2 linked regions of the Homo sapiens genome follow. The protein of the gene in region 1 purifies or fractionates together with the protein of each later gene. This does not show direct contact. Each region holds a gene or a part of one and is shown on either strand. Other genes may lie near its edges. The genes, in order: FNDC3A and HNRNPD.

What was found.
Region 2: the proteins of FNDC3A (region 1) and HNRNPD purify together in Homo sapiens (affinity purification with mass spectrometry; 2 studies listed by BioGRID and IntAct, with this or other methods). This does not show direct contact.

The regions. Positions count from the first base shown.
Region 1 is NC_000013.11:49,201,217-49,212,302, forward strand, and holds the end of FNDC3A (fibronectin type-III domain-containing protein 3A), read left to right. Parts: coding exon of another isoform or gene 1-55; exon of another isoform or gene 56-577; intron 578-583; coding exon 584-750; intron 751-1,940; coding exon 1,941-2,068; intron 2,069-5,864; coding exon 5,865-6,179; 3' UTR 6,180-8,563; downstream 8,564-11,086. UniProt on the Homo sapiens protein: Mediates spermatid-Sertoli adhesion during spermatogenesis.
Region 2 is NC_000004.12:82,363,855-82,374,940, reverse strand, and holds the start of HNRNPD (heterogeneous nuclear ribonucleoprotein D0), read left to right. Parts: upstream 1-949; 5' UTR 950-1,262; coding exon 1,263-1,495; intron 1,496-3,356; coding exon 3,357-3,413; intron 3,414-11,086. UniProt on the Homo sapiens protein: Binds with high affinity to RNA molecules that contain AU-rich elements (AREs) found within the 3'-UTR of many proto-oncogenes and cytokine mRNAs.

The sequences.
Region 1 (11,086 bases):
ACAGTTCAAGTGGGTAATGTATTGGAAATTTTATATTATCATACTGCTTTTGTAAATCTCTAAAAAAACGTCACCAAGTCAACTAAAAATCTGCCTGGGAATTGAGAATTCTCTTTTTTCCAGATAAAGACAAGGAAGATTAAAATAGAAACTTAATCTCATAGCTCAGGTCTCTATGCCATACTTGGCAAATTTTATCAATATGACTTTAGTTAGAAATAATTTGTAATGAAAATTGTGATGTTCTGAGCATCTTTTAAAATGTACATTAACAAAACAGTATTCAGAAACAAAGCTAAACCGGAAGCCTGAGAAGAAACAGTTATGGTCGGACATGAAATTTAGTAACAGACTTTTGGTAAATCATGTCAAATTGGGAAATTTACCAAATATCCTATTTTTCTTAATCTGATGAAAAACAGATTTATTTTAAGTGACATAGAGTTCCTGGCATCAAACTTTTGGGGTAACTTATCACTCCTAAATAATGTTCATAACTGTGTTTTTATACTAGTTTGTAAAACACTTTAATAAGGTATCATAAGGTAGTATAAGGTTTATCTAATAGTTATTTCCATTTTAGGTTTGTATCCCTATACAGAGGACCATGTCATACATACAAAGTACAAAGACTTAATGAGTCAACATCCTATAAATTCTGTATTCAAGCTTGTAATGAAGCTGGGGAAGGTCCCCTCTCCCAAGAATATATTTTCACTACTCCAAAATCTGTCCCAGCTGCCTTGAAAGGTAAGTTATACATCCTGAACTTATTTTCTTTATAATAAATTACTTTTTAATGTATTTTCATAAATGCTTTGTTTACTGATATTAAAATTTAGCATCCAGTATATGTCCACCAGTTATACAAAATCGTATAGGCAAGCCCAACTCTACTGAGAGTTCCACTCAATAATAAAAGCTGTTTTATCTGGCACGCTCATATTCAGACAAGTACTGGCTTTTGTCACTGATGTTTTTAATAATGTAGCATAAAAATACTAAATTGAATAGGAAGGCTGGTTTTCTAATGAGGTCATTTGCTTAAAGAAAAAAATCACAAACTCTGGTTGTTTAAACGTTTTGAGTTATTGATATTACATTCATTTGGATTTCAGAAGGAAAGCTTGGTCATCTGTTAAGCAAAACAAATTCTTCATTAATGTGGGTTTTTCAATTAGTTTTACACACACATGTACACATATTTACACACATTTGTATATACATTTATCTTTTAATTTTAGAGGGGTTCTTATTTTAAAGTGACTCTGGCAAGGGCTACACTCTATTTTTAGCTGAAAAGTCTATAAAGTTAATTGCTCTGAAGACTAATCACAGAGACTTCTAGAACCATATCCTAGATCATGTACTTAAACCTATCATTTGTTAAACAGCAGAACTCTTCTTGACTAGTCTTTCTAATAATATTGAGTTTCACTGAGTCATTTTTCTGTTTGCTCATCAAGTTTAGTGTCTCTTAGCTTTAAGAAGAGTGCTGACTATAAGCAGGGCACAGTGGCTCACACCTATAAGCCCAGTGCTTTGGGAGACTGAAGTGGGAGGCTCACTTAAGGCCAGGAGTATTGAGACCAACGTGGGCAACATACTGAGACCTGCCTCTCTACAAAAGAAATTTTGAATCAGCTGGGCATGGCAGCATATGCCTGTGTGTGTAGCTGCACAGGAGGCTGAGGCTGCATTGAGCTATGATCGCACCACTGTTGTCCAGGCTGGGTGACAGAGTGAGATCCCATATCTTAGAATACAAGAGTGCTGATTTTAACCTCTTTGGATGCAAATTTCAAAAATTCACTGATACTTATTTCAAGTTTATAAGTGGATTTTAAATATTTGTTGATTTTTATTAAGACAAGTGTCTGCATGATGTACCAAATTAAAAATCAAGTGGAACAGATATTATTTATATTTGTTTCCTACAGCCCCCAAAATAGAGAAAGTAAATGATCACATTTGTGAAATTACATGGGAGTGTTTACAGCCAATGAAAGGTGATCCAGTTATTTACAGTCTTCAAGTTATGTTGGGAAAAGATTCAGAATTCAAACAGGTATGTACCAAGATATTAATGTGTGGATGCATATTTTTACCCTTTTTTAATTTTTATGTATTTTCAGTGTAAGATTTGGCCATCTTTACCTTTTAATTCATAAATATTTATTCAGTATATATTATGTTCCAGAGATCTCAAGATTCCAAATCTTTTCAGTATGAACTACACTTGAACAGATTATTCATTTATCTGATAAGTATTCATTGAATTCTGTGCCAGGCACTCAGGATATAGCACTGAACAAAAAGTCCCTTGCCTCCATGGAGCTTACTTACATTCTGGTGGAAAAGAAGACACTATAAGCAAGTAAACATGACAATATATTGTCAGATATAAGTGTAATGGAGAAAAAACAAAATTGGATAAAAGAAATAGGGAGTGGAGGGGGAGGGCACTGAGTGTTATTTCATTTGGGGCACTCAGCTGACATTTCAGCATGGCCCAGAGGAGATGACTATGGAGAGAAGAGTGTTCCAAGAAGATACGCTGAGGCAGGAACATGCCTATTAAATCTGATGAACATAAAGGAGCCAATATGACTGGATGGAGAGAGCAAAGGGAAGAGTTGATAAGGTCGGATAGTTAATCCTAAGGGGCCTATAGGTGGTATGGAGTGACGTAAGGCATAATAGGCCATACTGTGGCTTTTACTCCACGTGAAATGAGAAGACAGTGGAGGATTTTGACCAGGGTATTCACGTGATCAGACACAACGTTGTTTTGACTATAGTGTTGAAACTACAGTAGGACAAGGGCAGAACTAGAAAGACTAATAAGGAGGCTTTTACAATAATAGTATTAATAATAGTCATAATGCAGTGCTGTAAATATGACATTAGGCATGAAGTTATAATGGAAACCTAGAGGAATTGTCACCTTCCTAGCCAAGAGGTTTCAAAGATAGCTTTCTGATAAAGCAAGAATAGCAGTGAGATAGAGTGGAGTGTTGCCAATGTTTGTTACAACTTTTAAAAAGAATAAGCTTTTATACCACTCCAAAGACTAATTAAATACCTATACATTTCACCTGATTTTCCCTTTTTCCTGTAACCTTAATTTTGAGGGCTTTTAAGCTGGGTTGTTTTCATTGTGTCTTATATTTTCCTCTTCCACTAAAAAAAAGATCCTTCATTTGTTTTATTCCAGTATTGTGCTATTGTAACCACTCTATGTAATATCTTAACTGAAATTACAAAAGATCCAAAGAGTCAGATTAAATCTGGCATGCAATTGTTTTTCTTTATTAAGCCATCTGCAAATTGACAGGATAATTAGATTTGAAATGTAATTTACAGATAAGTAGGTTTCCTTCTAAGGAGGAAGCAAAATTAATATTAAAGAAAATATAATTGTATTACACGTTTAAAGGAAATAGGGATTCCACATTTGAGTAGTATATGAATAACCTTAAGGCTTGTTTGAATGACTTTTCTTGGGTGTATAAACCTTCTGAAATTAGCTTGAGCAGGTTAATCTGTTTTCTTCAGTCCTGTATTTACAGTTACCTGTGTCTCTTCCTGCTTAGAGGTCTTCCCACATCTGAAATACAAAATTGAAAACTTGATCCCATCATCTTCCCTCCCAGTATCTCCTCTCCAACATCTTTACTTCATCAGTGTCATAGACACCAATATCATCTTGGTCTCCAAGCTTTAAATTCTTAGATGAATTTTTTTTTCCTATCAACTCTTAATCAGAATTTGTTTCTAAATCCATAAAACTACATCAGGGCCTCATCACTTTTTACATGTACATCAAGAGTCCCTGTCCTACTCAGCTCCCTTCAGTCCTTCACACAGCCTCACGATTAGGATTCCATAAACACTGTTTTAATGTCACACACCTACAGTGGTCCCTTTTGAATTAACCTAAATTTCCAACTAGTGTAATTAATGTATTCTTCCTCTTTGTACCAGATCTCTTATCACCCTCATGCCATTTGTTGAGGTTTTTCTTTCTTAACCTAATACTGCCAGGCTCATGGAATGGTATATGAAGACACATGGAAAGTATAAAGACAAAAATCATCTATTATATCCATAAGACAAATACATATTTTTAATTTTTACTCAATTTACTTCAGTGTTATGTATACAATTTTACACTACTTTATCATACAACATTCTGTTTTAAGTGAATCCTTTTACAGGTTGAAGCATCCCAAATAAAGTCCAAAATTCAAAATGTTCCACCCAAAATCTGAAACTTTTTGAGGATCGATATGACACTCAAAGGAAATGCTCATTGGAGCATTTCCAATTTCAGATTTTTGGGTTTGGAATGCTCAACTAGTAAATATGCAACTATTCCAAAATCAAAAAAATTGAAATGCTTCTGGTTCCAAGCATTTCTTATAAGGGATACCCAACCTGTACCATCTCCCAAACATGGATCATTTCTACATTCTATTCCCTGAAACATTATGCATCCTTAGAACTAATGTATAGTCACCATTTTCTTTCAGATTTATCTTAAAGCTTCTTTCAGTAAGTTCCTTTATATATTGTTATCAGCATCCACATTTTTATTTATTGCCAATAATTCACTAATTTAATGTCCTTTTATTAAGTACCTACTATATGCTAGATTCTGGAGACAGAAAAATGAGACAGAGATCTTACTTTACTTTGAGAGCAAAGCAATATGTAAAAATTTAGATTTACATCACAGGTACAATTGAGGCAGCTAAAAGTACTTGAAAGCCCCCATGTGTTGGTTCTTCTGACTTGTAGCCCACCAACTAACTGGAGAAACTCAACTGACAAGTCATTTAACCCTATGAACCTTGGTTTTCTCAATTACAGAATGAGTGGTGGGAGGTTGCTCATTATTGGAAATGATAGCTCCTACAGATTGAGCAGTGACTGCATGCTGAGCACTGCGCTAAGTGCTTTAACAAGCATTAGTTCATTTCATCCTCATAATTATCATACATGTTAACTACTAGTATGTCTGTTATACTAAGGTAGTTGGTCTAAAATCACATCTGGAGTGTGAAGTGGTAGAGCAGACCTTGGATGCCAGGGGTGAACAGTTCTAGTATATAGCTTCTTATTTATGCCTAGTGTTCCATTATTGGAACACTAAGCTTGTGGTAGTTATTTATATCTCACTGATCAAGGTTATTGCCAAGGTCTGATTTTTCACAAAAAAAAAATTTGCAACCTCTGGCATAAATGGGTTAATTACTAGCACATTCCTCTGAAAATCCGTGGAATTTCATTCTTTTTATTTCCCTTGTGAGGCATGGCAGAGGAGGTCCTATTTTCTGATTCTAAGTGATCTCCCCTCTCTGGTTTATACAGTGATTTGCCATAGGCACCTATAGAAAGCTCCCCTTATTCATTTTCCATTTCATTGTACAGATATGTTTGAAATTATATGGAAATTTATCAGTTATACAAAGACATAATGGGGGAAGCAAAAGTAGACACTATCCCTTCTTTGATGGAATGATTGCATTGAAAAATGACTTCTTACATTTGAGAAAAGCAAGAAAATGCTTGAGGACCGATTTTGCTTGTTCTCTAGCTGCCCTGGGGCACATCTGCACTCCTTAATTCATCTGTGAACCGTATAAGGGTAGATCCTCGCTTTTGAAATTTCTCTTGCCCCTATGCAACAAACAGATAAGTACTTTAATGGACAGGTATTTTTAACATGTCATTTAAAAGATAAAATCAATGGCATTCACTGGCTTTCACATGAAAAACAATTCTAACACTAGCCAGTTTTAACACATTTTCTGTCCAGCCTTCACACGTAATTCTTCCTTCTAATATTTTATTAACAGATTTACAAGGGTCCCGACTCTTCCTTCCGGTATTCCAGCCTTCAGCTGAACTGTGAATATCGCTTCCGTGTATGTGCCATTCGCCAGTGCCAAGACTCTCTGGGACACCAGGACCTCGTAGGTCCCTACAGCACCACAGTGCTCTTCATCTCTCAGAGGACTGAACCACCAGCCAGCACCAACAGAGACACTGTGGAAAGCACAAGGACCCGACGGGCACTGAGTGACGAGCAGTGTGCTGCCGTCATCCTTGTGCTGTTTGCTTTCTTTTCCATTTTGATTGCCTTTATCATTCAGTACTTTGTAATCAAGTGAAAATATAACTTTATTTTTTAACTCTATTACATTTTATTTTGTCATGTACTAAAATTATTTCTGTATTGCTTTTATAAAAAACAGTGGCATTTAGCACTGGCATTGAGACTATAGCACATCATTTTTGCCATTTTCAGTGCTTATATTGTTAGGTAGAGGCTGGCACTTTATTAGAATGCAAGCCACAAAAATATCAATTTTGTTTTTTTTGTTAGGGTGGGTCTTCTTTTTTTCTTTCCCTCTCTCTTTTTTTAACAAATGCCTTCTTATAGAAAAACTTTCTAAGAGGCAACAATTTAGAATGGATATTTTGACGAATCGGCATGAGTGTAACAGTGATAACCTGATCTGTTTGTTTTAAAGATTATTACCAAGTGAAAAATTCAGAATGAATAGAATTTACACTAACATGCTATATAAAATGTTAAAGTCTGATGCTGTGAAAGCAATCTAGTGCTATATTTCTACCTCCTCATTTGTCTTAATTATTTGGTAAGTGGGATTATGATGAGTAACTGGAGGGGCTTAGAAACAAAAACTGGATGAAAGAGTATGCATGAAGAAAAGCTTCTTTGATAAATGTGGAGTTCTTCATTATAAATATATATTCATGAATTCACAGATAAGTACTTAAAGAACAGACAGTTTACTTGGCCTAAAAATATTTTGATGTTTACTCAAAAAGTACCTCTTCAGGTCTTGAGAACATGGAAAAGAATTGAGTGCTTTTAAATACTTTTTAGAAAGTAATCATAAAAGTAAATTGAATTTCAAACCTATTTGGCTTCTGTTTTGTGAACCTTTGAACTATATGTATGTGTATAAGGGTATACACATACATATATGGCATATAACAAGTGTACACATATACACATAACAAGTGTAGAAGTATATATTACATACATACACTCACTCTGTCTGGTATAGGCTAATTTTGAAGAACTCCCATAAGTTTCTGCTGCTTCTCCCATAACTGCTGCCACCACCATCAGAATTCATAATCAAACCTAACCTTTTTGTTTGGGGCACCAAATCTGAAGACAAAATTAATTTGCACCAGTAAACTTCAAGCTGCTTTCTTTCTTGAAAACTAAACGTTTAACGTATAATGTCTGTTTGGATACTGTTCCAAATTGTTGATTGCATGTGGTTAATGTTGCATTAGAGCACTTTGCAATTGCATAATTCATTAATGTTTTGTGAGCTTGCATTTGTGAGTTATTGGATGATCAGACTGAATTTTGTCAAGTATCACATTGTACATCTTGCCTAGATGTCGATGACTGCAAGTAATAATACAGTTTATAATGAAACTATCTACAATTCTTGTTTTAGCACATCTGTTATCCGTAAAACACCTGTAACTAGCTTTTTTAATTTATTATTTGAATTTTAGGATAGCGAATCACTAATTTTTAGTTGCTGAGGTTGGCATTTTAGTGATTATTAAGCACTTCTGTCAGTCTTTGAAAAAAGAACGTATTTTTTGTGCTTTGAAGATCTCTGAAGAATTTCTTTTATAATAGAATGGGCATGTATTGTAACAGTTTTATGTCAAATGATCTGTGCTGTAGAAAAACATTAACCCTTGTTCAAAAAAGAAATGGATAAACTTGGCCTTTCTAAGTGGTAAGAATGACCTGTCACTATAATATACTGTATGTTTACATTTTATTTAAATTTAATCTCTTATGTATAGGGTGATAACCTTCCCCAGAAACAACAGTGATTGCGATTGTTTTCTAGAAACTTCTTTAAAGTGCCACATTTGGCAGTACAAATGAGTCTGAGTGTAATAGCCCAGAGATTTATATATAGTTGAATGTCTAAAATGGTAAAATGTGCCACTGTGTCAAGTTACAGTGGCTTATGTTTTTCATAGTAATTCAAATGAACTTCCTATTTTTGATAGTAAATGTCATTTAATAGTATACTTGCCATTTGAGCCTCACTGCAAAATTAGTGCAGAGGAGAAAACAATTTTTAATGTAATCTTGATTTTACCTCATATACTGTACATTCCAAAAACTCTAAACTTTTTAAAGATTATAGATACACTACCAAACATATCACCTTAAAATTGTATAAGGCTGAATGAACTTCATACAAATGAAAAAAATCTCATAAAAATACATAAACTATGTAGCAAAAGTATCTGTAAAATCCATGGAAAATAAAAGTTGTATCATTCTTTTTGAGATACGTTTATTGTATTCATATATATTCATTATTTGCTACCTGTTTAAGAAAGTGAAATGTTATGGTCTCCCCTCTTCCAATGAGCTTAAAACATTTTTCCCAACAGTATATAAATCTTCAACATGAGAGGATGTATATTTATTATATAAAGCCCAGTAAAGAATAAAATTAGAAGTTTTATCCTAGTGACTTGATTTTGTGCAACTCATGAAATATCTTACTTCCTTTCCACATATAAAGAATACAGTGAGTCTAAGGTAAACTTCCCAGTGGGAAGAAAATCCCTAACCTCTCCTTGCCTTTCCCACATCCCTATTTTCTAGTACCTTCTTTCGCCCACCACCAGAGGCCCAGAACCTTCCTGGTAGTGGCACTGCTGGGTCTGCCTTCCACCAGAAAATCCAACATTCTCTCACTCATCCCCCATTAAAATTTCCATCCCAAGAACTTCCTCCTGGGGATGGACACTCAGTGCCTTTTTTTTTTTCTTTTTTTAATGGGTAAGCTAGTAAATTTTATGTTATAAATATTTTACCACCATAAAAAAATCATTGAAAAATTCACTGAAGAAGCCAATATGGAAAGAGGAGAACTCAATGTTTAAAATAAAGCCAACTTTTTTTTTTTATTCAAGAGGTAAGTACATAGCTTCAAGCTCAAGGTCTAGGTTGAGGACAATCATGAGTCCTATTAAAGGACAACCAGTTTAAAGAACACTGTCAGGCAAGCTACCACGTAGCTCTCCTTCACTCCAGGCTTAGCTGTTCCAGACTTCCCAGTACTGATGAAGGATCATGTTTTTGTTCAGCTTTGCCCAGTGCTGTCATTCATAATAGATAAATGAAAAGTCCCAGAAACCTGTTGTGTTTGGGAAGGTTTTCTTTTGTTCCAGGCTTCAGTGGTTAATATGCTTGACAAATTTCAGAGTCTCTATCTCTGTAGACCAATGCCAAAGAATTGCTTTCTGGATTCACTGTTAGCAGCTCTTCGTCTTCATCTTTGGCAATGTAAGAAAACCACCATATTCTGGCCCCCAGCCTTCACAGCCACAGTGGAGAATTAAGTCTAGGGCAAAATCAGCCTTGCCATGGTCACGAATTAAAAGTGTGGTGACCAGTCTTCCAACGCCTCAGTTCCCTTTGGCATGTGGGAACACCTGATTCATTCTTTGTTTCATTTTCCTCTGACTCGGTCTGTCTGCTCATGGCTCTGTTGGCCGTTGATGCTGATGGCTGCCTGATTATTCTCTGGCTCAGGAGGGCTATGGCCAGTCCCTTCCTCAGTTCTATCAGCAGCAGAGGCTGCTGCTTCCTCTTTTTTGTCATCCATCTCATCTTCCGAAGGGGCCAAGAAGTGAAGCTTCAGGCCTGTGAAGTTGGAGAGCAGCAAGAATAGTGCCTCAGAGCAAAATAACTTCATGCACTCCTTCAATATATCAGGAAGCTTACTCTCCTCAGCTTTCTCATAGAATCATCTTTTGTTGGCCAGGCACGGTGGCTCATGCCTATAATCTTAGTACTTTGGAAGGCCGAGGTAGACAGGTCACCTGAGGTCAGTAGTTCAAGACCAGCCTGGTCAATATGGTGAAACCCCTGTCTCTACTAAAATAGAAAAATTAGCTAGGCATGATGCCAGGTGCCTGTAATCCTAGCTACTCGGGAGGCTGAGACGGGAGAATTGCTTGAACCCAGGAAACGGTGGTTGCAGTGAGCCGAGATTTAAAATTTAAAAAATGATAATAAAAAAAAAAAAACCTTTTCTTAGGGGGACCTCAGCTGCTCTCTTCCACATCTCCATTCTCCAAGGCCTCACAGACCTTTGCAAATTTCTCAGGCTTAAGAAATTTCTTAGGAGAATTTCAGAACTTTCTTCAAACTCTTCTTGAGTTTGAATTTGGTAATCCATGTCCAGATAAGTAAGGTTGATCCAATCAAACAATTTCATGTTCTTGTGGGGTGTGAGGGCTCCAAGATATGAGGGGGTTCAAAGTAGTTGGGAGGCCTAGTCAGTGAAGGACCATGAAACCAGCCACTTATAGACAAATGTGACTTCAGACAGGACTTTGGACACCTGGTGAAAGGACACTGCAGATACTTCAAAGAAAACCAGTTTGTTCCATAAAGGGGTAAGAGACGACAATCTGCTTCGGTTGAAAGTGTTCATCAATGTTGTACAGGTCCAGGATACCCTCCAGGCTCCTGTCCCAGGAAAGAACCAGGTACAGGATAAAGGCGATCCAGCGCCCTTCTAGCTCATCATCATGGCACAGCAGGGCATCAGTGAATTCATATTTAGCACAGGACACATCGATGGTTGGTTCCAGTAAATTTTAGAAATGCCAGAAAGCCAGGACCAGAAATCTTCAAACAGAATTTTCCTTAAAGCAGAGATGTGAGGCCCTCTTCTTTAAATCATCAGACTGCTGGAACTTACATAAATCATTATACTTGTCATGGAAATCTAAGTTCATAAGTTCCTTCTGAAGCCCTTCCAAGAAGTCGTCTTTGGATGAAGTTTGGGATCATGCAGTGAAGAAAGGGGTCCATGTCCCTGACAATGGCTTCGTAGCTCCAGGCCTCAACCACCTGCTTTTTCAAGGTTTCCTCCATGACGGCATCTGAAAATTCCGCCATCACCTCCTTCTTTCCCTTTTTTCCCACCCGGGTCCGGCCGGGCTCCACTGGCCGTTTCATCTCCTCACAAGGTAC
Region 2 (11,086 bases), on another chromosome or scaffold:
AAAAGCCAAACCCGAACACAAACTCATAAACCTCGTAAAGATGACTCACGACATTTATATATTCTATGTACAAAGGCTAAAGAACATTAAGCGAACCCTTGATTTAACACACTTTCCAATTATTAGTAACGTAAAGGAATCACGGTACGTTTTAGGATCTTTAAACAACAAAAGCAAAGCAAAAACAATGTTTTCCTTAAGATATGCAAGTTACCTGCTTCTTCGACCAAAAACAAAAAAATTCCAGGAGAAAAGCAGGCAAACAAAAATCTTACTTGGAAAGCCAAATCTTAAAAAGAAGCCCTATCGGCCCAGCGGCGATAGACGAAAACCTCAATGTCACCCGGTCCCGGGCGGCGACGGCAGGGAGAGTAGCTGCGGCAATCAGTGCGCGCGCGGTCCGCTGCGGCGCCTGGCGCTCCGCGGGCGTCCGGGTGGACAGCGCCAGGGGCACAGGGCTGACATCTCAGGGCTAATTCCCTCCTCCAGTGCGTAAATCCAGGCTTAAGCCGCCGCAGGGTGTGAGCCTCCCCTCCCCCACCCGAACGCCGCAGCTGCACGGGGCACGACAGCCTTCGCAGAGGTGCAGCCACACCCCGGCCTAACGCTGCTGCTCCCGCCGCTACTGGAGTGGTGGGGAGGGGTGAGTGGACTCCAGGAATCCTCGGAAGGGCGGGGGCGGAGGCAGGGGGCCCCTCTAGCCGCTACTTCGAAACAGCACTCCTTGTTCTCGATGGTCCCCGCGCGACTGTCTTAGCTCACGACACTTCCGGTTCCTTTTAAAGGCCCCCAAGGCTGTGCAACGCGGAGCGTGAGAGGAAGGTATAAAGGGTAGCGAGAGGGCGGGACCGAGGAGGAAAGGGAAAAAAAAAAAACTAGGGGGATAGGGGTGGGGGGACGCGCGAAGGGCGCGCTCTCGCGTCACGTGACCGGGACGCGCCGTTCTTCCGTCGGCCATTTTAGGTGGTCCGCGGCGGCGCCATTAAAGCGAGGAGGAGGCGAGAGCGGCCGCCGCTGGTGCTTATTCTTTTTTAGTGCAGCGGGAGAGAGCGGGAGTGTGCGCCGCGCGAGAGTGGGAGGCGAAGGGGGCAGGCCAGGGAGAGGCGCAGGAGCCTTTGCAGCCACGCGCGCGCCTTCCCTGTCTTGTGTGCTTCGCGAGGTAGAGCGGGCGCGCGGCAGCGGCGGGGATTACTTTGCTGCTAGTTTCGGTTCGCGGCAGCGGCGGGTGTAGTCTCGGCGGCAGCGGCGGAGACACTAGCACTATGTCGGAGGAGCAGTTCGGCGGGGACGGGGCGGCGGCAGCGGCAACGGCGGCGGTAGGCGGCTCGGCGGGCGAGCAGGAGGGAGCCATGGTGGCGGCGACACAGGGGGCAGCGGCGGCGGCGGGAAGCGGAGCCGGGACCGGGGGCGGAACCGCGTCTGGAGGCACCGAAGGGGGCAGCGCCGAGTCGGAGGGGGCGAAGATTGACGCCAGTAAGAACGAGGAGGATGAAGGGTGAGTAAGGGGCATCCCAGGATAGTCAGGCCCAACTAGTCCCCCTCCCCCTCTTTATTCCCCCGCCATTAGGCCTGGTTCCCGCTCTCAGCCCGTTCTCCGGGCCCCCATGCAGCCTCCTTGCACTGGTCTCCCTTTTTCTATGTTGGGTTCCCCGGACCTTCATTTCCTTCTTCCTTTGCCTGCTTATCGCCCCCCTCCCCCATCACACACGTTTCCACCTTTAGCCGTCACCATGCTGCTCCTCGGCCCGCCCTCCTTTCCTCCCTCGCCATGGGTCTCCTCCCACCGACTTAGCCGCCAGGATTTTTTCCCGCCTGTCGTGGGGTACCTTTTTTCTTTCCATGCTGTCCCCTCTTTTTCCCTTTTTCTACAGTCTTGGGCATAAAAACACAGACACAAACAGCTTCTCTGTTTGTATTACTAAGGTTTATTTGGTGCTTCTCCACCATCCTGAAACGATGCGATTGTTTATAAGCACATGTTTTGGGGAACGCGTAGGCTGTCCACCTCTGCCTCTCCCTTGTCGGCCTTAGGCCGACTGTTTTCTTGGGATTTTGAATAAGTTTCGCCTAAGGATTTACTCATTTTCTCCACCATACGCTATCGCACAATGGCATACTCATACAGGCCCTACATTTTGACATGCAGACCAAATTGGGTCTGGTGAAATGCTCCGAGTTTCTTGTTGGTACATTGGTTTTGCTCCGCGGGCTCTGGTTAAGTTCTTAGTCGATCGGGCCTGCACTTGACTGGAGCTGTTCCTATCTCCGGCCTAGCATCTACCCTTCCCCCACCCCACTGAGTTATTCTAACCGCGCACCCTTTTCGCGCCCTCAGCTATTGGGTTCCCCAACTGTTAGTACAGATTGTACCTTACTTTTTATGTGCAACCTAATTTTTTACAACCCCCAGCCCCCTTTTTTTCCCGGTGCCCAGGATCCTATTTTGGTGTCTTGATATCTGTTTCCCGCCCACTAAGGGAGGCCTGTAGTCCTCTTAAGAGAAACAAATCCTGTATTGTGCTATGGGATACTTTTTTTTTCTTTTTGGTGCAAATTTCTTAGTATTAACTTGCTTCCTCCAATTGAAATAACAGTTGTATATACTACCTAAATCTGCATTTAGTGTATTAAAATGCAGCATTTGGGATTGGGAACATAATACGGGAGTTAGCAGGAGGGACTAAATCAGGTTTCTTGGTTGAGTTTTCTTAGCTCCGATTACTGACCGATGATCGTGGGTTCACGCTTCCATTCCTTTTTGTAATGGGGAGGGGTGTGTGTGTGTCTGAATTTTTTTTTAACTGTAAAGAGAAAGGTGTTGGTGGATATAACAAGATGTCGCTTTAATCTAGTATTAGAAAACACGATTTCCTTTACTGAGAAAGAGCCCAGGATTTGGAGGGAAAGTTGGGAGGGGAGAAGCACTTTGGAATATAGGGTTTATTAAGCCCAGCCTAGGCAGATTCTTGTCAGGCTGTTTGATGATAGTGCTGGTTTTGGGGGAGTGGTGGTGGGAAGGGAAGCAAACTTTTAAAAATTAAACAGAACCAACTCGAATTGTATATAGCTTATTTGAGAAAGGAAGATGTTAGATATTTGGAAACTTAAAACCTTTAACATTTTGGTTTTCGTTTGCTGAATTCTGTTCTTTGGACAGAGGCACCAAAATGATTAATTGTATAACTTCCTGTTTGGGGCAGGCTTTCTGTTAGCCCTGATAATTCAAATCGCAAAGCAGCTGACTTTATAGTTACCTACTGTTGAAGTGTAAATGAATTAAAGTTTTTAACCCTAACAGTGTCAAAAACTAAAACTAGAATTTTGATTGGTTGCTGTACCGGTTGTTAATTCCCTAGCCATTCAAACTCCTCCCCACGACACTCTGAAGCAGCGACGGCACAGCGGGAAGAATGGTAAAACTTTTAAATTTTATTTCTGTATTATAAAGGTTTCAGTAGTCATAATATGTAGAGGCTGTGTATTGGTTAGTTGCCCATTGATCCCCAGGAAATTCTAGACCATAGTACATACAGTAGGTTTGTACCTGGGATATATACCTTTTATAGGCATCATGTGTAATCTTTGGGCAAAATTGATGCCGTTACATGGTATTTGGTCTGTGGTAATGCATGTAGTTGCAGTTTGGCAATTTAAGCTAAACAATTAGTAACGATATTTTTATATCGAGCAAGAAAAAATATTACCGTAATCTTCACATTTGATTTATTTTAAGATGAAAAATATTTTTGTTGGAATTTAAGTTTAATGGCTAAATATGAAGACTCCTTGATATAAAATATTGTGTTTAAAATGTCATGCATGTTATACTGAAATATTCTGGAGATGTCTGAAGCAGTTCTTTAAGCAGCACTGTGTATTATGGAAAAATGTTTGTCTTTTACCTAGCATATTTGTAAATAGACCTTTAATAAGAAGTGTGTGTGTGTGTGTGTGTGTGTATATATATACCATTAAAAGGTGGGCTAATGTGGCTTTCCACTACAGCTCTTACCAGATTTTTTATTTTCAGTGTGATTTGGCTGGAATATTAATAACAGTTGGTTGACATGTATTCACAATTGCATGACTTCTCTTTGGAGGCTGGTAGGTTGAGTATTGTTCTTTTTATCCATCCTTTCCCCTCCCCTAAATGTCAGTCTTTCTGCTTTTAGGATTATATTTGAATTTTCAGGGGTTTATACACCACCACTGGAGAGTAGAAGGCCACTAACTTGCAGGCAGTTAACTTATATCTTTACAAGCTACATTCTATTTTAAGAGCCTATTTAGGGTAACATTTAAAGATTTGCTTATCACTGTATTCTCATCCACTGAAATCAGTCCAGCTTTACCTTGGAGAAAAAGCAGATGGGAAACAGGCAAGGGGAAAAGCAAAAAAGAGGAAAAAAAAAAGACTGGGGTCACAGTTTCGATGAATGTTATTCCCTGTATTTGGTGAGTGGTGGGCACTAGCAGCTCAATTTCACTGCTAGCTAATAGTGGCAAATTAAGATTAAACTATAAACTATTTGACATTACTCCATTATGTATTTTGAGTCTCATGTAATTGTTTCCAGTGATTTGAAATGACCATAAACTTAAATTTGAAGGTCAGTGTTTTGACTCTTCGAAGTAATTACACTTGACCTGCTACCTAAAACGATGTAATATTACAACTTTTTTGAATAATCTCAGGAAAAATGGAGAAATGTTTATATTCATAGTTAATAAACATTCTAGATAGTAACCAACTGTCATTTACTGAAAATAAAATTTTACCCAGGTTTATTTTATTTTTGAGACGGAGTTTAGCTTTTGTTGCCCAGGCTGGAGTGCAGTGGTGTGATCTTGGCTCAGCGCAACCTCCACCTCCCAGGTTCAAGCAATTCTCCTGCCTCAGCCTCCAAAGTAGTTGGGATTACAGGCATATTCCACCATGCCTGGCTAATTTTGTATTTTTAGTAGAGACAGGGTTTCTTCATGTTGGTCAGGCTGGTCTCGAACTCCCGACCTCAGGTGATCCGCCTGCCTCGGCCTCCCCAAGTGCTGTAATCACAGGCGTGAGCCACTGCGCCCGGCCTAGCCAGGTTGATTTTAAAATTACACTTAAAAATAATGTTCTCATTTTTAAGGGCTCTAATATTTGACTTTTCTTAACTTTCCAATTATGCAGCCCTATCCTGTTCCAGACGTTAAGGCTTTCTTTTTGAATGAAAAACTTTCAGACTTTTTTCTCTCTCTTTTTTTTTTTTTGGTGTCTGCACTCCCCACCGTATCTGTCCCTTCCTCTTTCTCCCATTTTGAGGGATATTATAAGGGCAACAGTTTTATAGTCTCAATATTGAGGGTAAGACTGGTTAATAGAGTATCCAAATTGAATTTATTAAACACAGTTCTGTGTGCATTTCCTTCTGCAAATCTGAGAATAAAGTGATTACAGTTTCATCCTAAAATACTTTAAAAATCAGTTGGTTTTAGAAATAGGTTTTTTTCCTTTTGCATGTAAGAATGGACAGCTATTTTTAGGAAGGCATGCCTGTTACACCTCTAGTGGATGTTTCTACAGTTTACTATGGGACTTTAGAATAAGTAATTATTTCCATAGTATGCCCTCCTGAGTTCACTTTGATTTACTCTTTCCCACATTAACATCCGTAGTTTTTACTTATAAGCATTGGAATTTCTCATTTTACTTTGTGGTGTGGACCCATTCTGTTCTCTGCAGTGCTGCAGTTCATTTGGGGTAGGTACTTTAAAATTATTTAGTGTCTGGCAAAATATACATGCCATGTAGCAAGCTCTCTGAGGGCAGAGTTTTTAAAGTTTAAAAATCAATGGAAACTACAATGTTGTGTTAACTTTGAGATAGTTTTACAAGGTAGGTACATAGACTTTCCTGCATTGGATTGGGTAGGAAGCAAAAAAGTCCCCCCATTCACTTAGCCAAAGTCCAGCAATGCTTCTTTAATAACAGGACAGTAGATATTGTCCTGTTAATGGTTAGTGTATAATGAGCCCAAGTGTGATTCTTCCCATTTGGGAATTCTGTGAATCCTGCTGTAGGTTGTTGCCTGTCTGATTATAAAAGACTAGGCTCATGTTTTTGCTTTAAATGTTTGAGATTATGGTCTTATACCTTAGTGCTTCTGGGGCAATCTGAACATTGTTTGCTTTGTAAAATAATTTCTTTTAGAGTAGTCTCATGCCAAATTTACTGGCCTTTGATTCAGTACAGTTGGGTTTACTGTATGTAGTAAAGTTGAGACCCTGCGTAGATTGGTCTCAGTGTTAGCATTCTTGGGAGCCTTTGACAAATTTCCCGAGTTAAAAATTCCAGAAATTGATGTCCCCAGATCTTTAGATGAACATTTAAGCGAAGAGTATTAAATACTTCTCACTGTAAATTTTCATCTATTATGAAAGATACTAAAAATAATCTCGTTTTTTAAGTTTGGAATTGGGAGAATGTCATTGAAGTTTTTCAGTGCTTGTTTTTGAGATACACATACTTTGCCTTAAATCTGGGGTTTTTTCCCTTAAGCCATGTGACCCTTTCTACAAACTCAGTGTATGTTTTTAATATTTCCTGGGTACTCTGCTATCGTCCTAATACATAATATTAGGGTAAGGCTGCCCTAATACGAGAACATTTTGAGTATACTATTGAGTATACATTTGAGTATACATATTGAGTATACTATTTATGCCAACGTGAAGGATGTGATTAGTTTTAGCCTTCAAGTCATAATACATACCATGCTTGAAAGCATTTAAAAAGGAATAGAGTAATTTTTTTTCCCATTCCACTTGGAAGCTGTGTACCTCAAGTGTGTGCACATTTACAAATGGGTGAAACATAACTTATGTTAGTCCAAGCTTGATTTGACTTCAGTTCTGCTTCAACGTTTTAGTAGATAGGGCACTGAACTGGATGCTGAAAGCGTGGGATCTCTTTCTGTTGCTTCACTTCCAACAGTGTGGTTTCAGGTAATACGACATGTTTGTTACTTGGTTTGCTGATCTATGTGTTGGAAACAATGCTCACCACAGGAGGATTGACTACATAGCCTGCTTTCATAGCTTGTGTGTATTTATCCAGTGCCCTAATAGTTGATACTGCCAGTGATTTACTCCTGTGGAGTAAAGGTAAGCATGTTTTAGTTTCTGGAGTATTATATTGTACGTTGGAGCTAGGTATTTAAGAATATTTGGGGGTGGGGAGGGAAGACTCCAATTTACTGGTGGTGCTTGGCCAGTAATCAAGGTGACAGTTTAAGTATTGGGTCTTGCACTGTAAACTCCTGCTTATCTAGACTTCAGACTACCACAGAGCCCACACAGCCAGGAAGTCTGTCTCCCCATTTAGTCTTATGAGCAAGATAGATGAAGCCATGAGAAAATATACTCAAAAAGCAACCAACAGACAATGTCATGGAATGAATCTCCTACAGATTTTTCCTTACACTTTTGAAAAGTAACATGATTTTAAAACGTTGGAAAATTCATCAAGGTACAAATCATTTTCTGACTTCAGCATTGATACCTAAATTGATTTCCAGTACACAGTTTTATAGAATTGTGAATATGTAGTAATCTCAGTTAACCAGAACCTTAACCTTCAGGTTAAGGAAAATACCTATTCCTTAACCTCTAGGTAAATGGGAGTTTACCTTACAAAGCTGATTGAGAGCTTATTTAAAACGTAAACATACAAGATGTCATTGCTTCCTTGTAGTGAAGTGAAAAGGAGGTATTGGATTAAGCATTTAAAGTTAATTAAAGTAGTGGCTCGTGCCTGTAATCACTGGCTACTCAGAAGTCTTGAGGTATGAGGATCATTTCATGCCAGGATTTCTAGACCAGCTAGGCAACATAATATGACCCCTGTTTCTTTAAAAAAAAAAAAAAAAAAAAGGCTAGTGTGTTGGGGGGTGTGTTTGTAGTTGTAGTTACATCTACTCAGGAGGCAGAGGCAGGAGAATGTGTTGAGCCCAGGAAGGAGCTCAGGGCTGCAGGAAGCTATGATGGAGCCACTGCATTTTGATAGTGAGACCTGGTCTCTTAAAGTGTTTTATTTTTAGGCCAGGCGTAGTGGCTCACACCTGTAATCTCAGCACTTTGGGAGGCCAAGATGGGTGGATCACCTAAGGTCAGGAATTGGAGACCAGCCTGGCCAACATGGCGAAACCCCAGCTCTACTAAAAATACAAAAATTAGCCAGGTGTGGTTACATGCGCCTGTAGTCACTCAGGAGGCTGAGGCGGGAGAATCACTTGAACCCTGGAGGCGGAGGTTGCAGTGAGACAAGGTTGCACCACTGCATTCCAGCTTGGGCAACAGAGCAAGACTCCGTCTCAAAAAAAGAAAAAAAAAGTTTATTTAAAAAACTGTCATGTTGGCCGGGCGCGGTGGCTTATGCCTGTCATCCCAGCACTTTGGGAGGCTGACGCAAGCGAATCACCTGAGGTCAGGAGTTCGAGACCAACCTGGCCAACATGTTGAAACCCTGTCTCTACTAAAAATACAGAAATTAGCCGGGCATGATGGTGGGCATCTGTAGTCCCATCTACTTGGGAGGCTGAGGCAGGAGAAGAGCTTGAACCCGGGAAGCAGAGGTTGCAGTGAGCCAAGATCGCGCCACCGCACTCCAGCCTGGGCGACAAAGCGAGACTCTGTCCCCCTCCCAAAAAAACTGTCATGTTTCATTTATTAGATGTTTATTTTTTCAACTTCGCTTTTTAGTAGTCATTTAGTTAGGTTCATTCTAAAGTGTGAAGTAATGAGATTTAATACAGAGAAGTCTCTGAAAATGTTTGGTCCATTGTATATTAGTCTTGAATAAATGGAATTCTTTTTCACACTTACCTTGAAAATGTCATCTGTAGAAAGCTGGGGGAGAGGAATACCTATTCTTTAATGATGGGGAAATAATACCAAAATTTATATTTTTATTGACTAAAGTGTTTTTTGGGGAAGATTTGTTATTGGCTAACCTTAATGTCTCATTAGTTTTAAATAGTTAAAAAAAGTGGGCTGGGTGCGGTGGCTCACGCTTGTAATATAGCACTTTGGGAGGCTGAGGTGGGCAGATTGAACCCAGGAGTTCCAGACCAGCCTGGGCAACATGATGAGATCCTGTCTCTACAAAAAAAAAAAAAAAAAAAAAAAATTAGCTGGGCCTCGTGGTGTGCACCCATAGTCTCAGCTACCCAGGAGCTTGAGATGGGAAGATTGCTTGAACTTGGGAGGCAGAGGTTGAAGTGAGCCAGGATCACACCATTGCACCACAGCCTGGCAATAGAGCGAGACTCTGTCTCAAAAAAGTGGTTTTCATGAATTTTATACCAGATCAGATCTAAAAAGGCTGGTTAGTATTTGAACTCGATGAAAGCTTGTCAAGCTCTCTCCCAAGGTAGTTTTCATACAACTTGTAAAATACCCTAACGTGTGATATTATCTAGTTGCATTGTAACCTCCTCCCTTCCCCTTAGGTAACTAGTGACTTAGCTTTAGTTTGTCATTTTAGGATTTTAGAAGAATAATTATGATGGATAAAATACTGGAAAAATTCAGTAAGGATTTAATGGTGTGCTTGAGTAACATTACTTTAAAAGATGACAGTGATTGGTCATTTATGTTTTATACCTGAAATGTATATCAGGTTGACATTCTGTTGTATTTTTTAAACTGTCAGAACTTGTTATAAAGCCATGTATGTAAGATCATAAGTTGTTAGGAAGTGTTTAAAAGTTAAAGGATTGGCTGGGTGTGGTGGCTCATGCCTGTAATCCTAGCACTTTGGGAGGCTGATCGCTATGTCCAGGAGTTCTGTGACTAGCCTGGGTAACAGAGCAAGATCTCGTCTCTAAAAAAGTAAAAATAATACGAAGTTATAGAACATAGAAAAAGAATACTATTCCAAAATTGGGAGTGAGTATAATGGCTAACTTTTTACCTTGAATAAGGTGTTTGACAATAAAGACTTATTAGGGGAGGTATCTTGGAATAAAATAGTTAATATTGACTGGGAATGTTAAAAACCTAGTGACCTAAATAGTCCAGAGAATAAGTTTATTGATGGGGAAAAGCCAGGATTATTAAATCGGAACATTTTCCACCAGCCAGGATTGCTCCATGTATATTTCCTTTTATGTTTTAAATTATTCTTTACTAAAATTACTGGCATAAATGTAGGGTAGACCAAGTCATCAAGGTGATTTTGGAAGCTACATTTAAAGGGTCTTAGTTGAAATACCACCTAATTTTTAGTTTATATATTTTTTTACATGGACTATTTAAAAATTTCTGGGTTATTTCAAGTTGGCAGCATTGAAAATATTAGAATATGTTTATATAAAACTCATTGTGGCCTTTTCCTTTTAATGTTGGAAAGTTTATAAAGCCTATGCAGTTTTAAAAAATTAAGCCATTGAGTAAATAAAAAGTTTGCTTTATTAAATTATGTTTAGATAGTGCTTATAGTGCTTTACCCCTTCAAAATAGTAACTTCTATCAATCATTTAGGATGTGTGTCAGACTATTCTGTGTCCTTTAAGTGTGTTAACTAGTTTTAACCCTCTGCAAATATCTGAGGTATGCTCTTTTTACAGATGGGAAAACAATCTTGGACTTTAATATTTTTTCTTAATGTTACACAATTAGTAAGAGGCAGGGGGCCAGGTGGAGTGGTTCATGTTTGGAATTCCAGCACTTTGGGAGGCTGAGGTGGGCAGCTTGAGCCCAGGAGTTGGAAGACTAGCCTGGGCGACATAGTAAAACCTGATCTCTGCAAAAATATTAGCCGGGTGTGTTGGTGGGTGCCTGTAGTCCGAGCTACTGGTGAGGCTGAGGTGGGAGGACCAACTGAGCCCAGGAGGTCAAGGCTGCAATGAGCTGTCATGGAGCCAGTGCACTCCAGCCTGGGAGACAGAGTGAGACCCTGTCTTAAAAAAAGGCAGCAGTAGGGTTTAAACCCCGGCATTTTGTCTTTATTGCCTCTAAACTTAACTTGCTTTAAAAGATGATAAAATGTCCCACAAAGGAGCCTAAATTCCTGAATGATACTGCATATCACTTGGATAGTTAT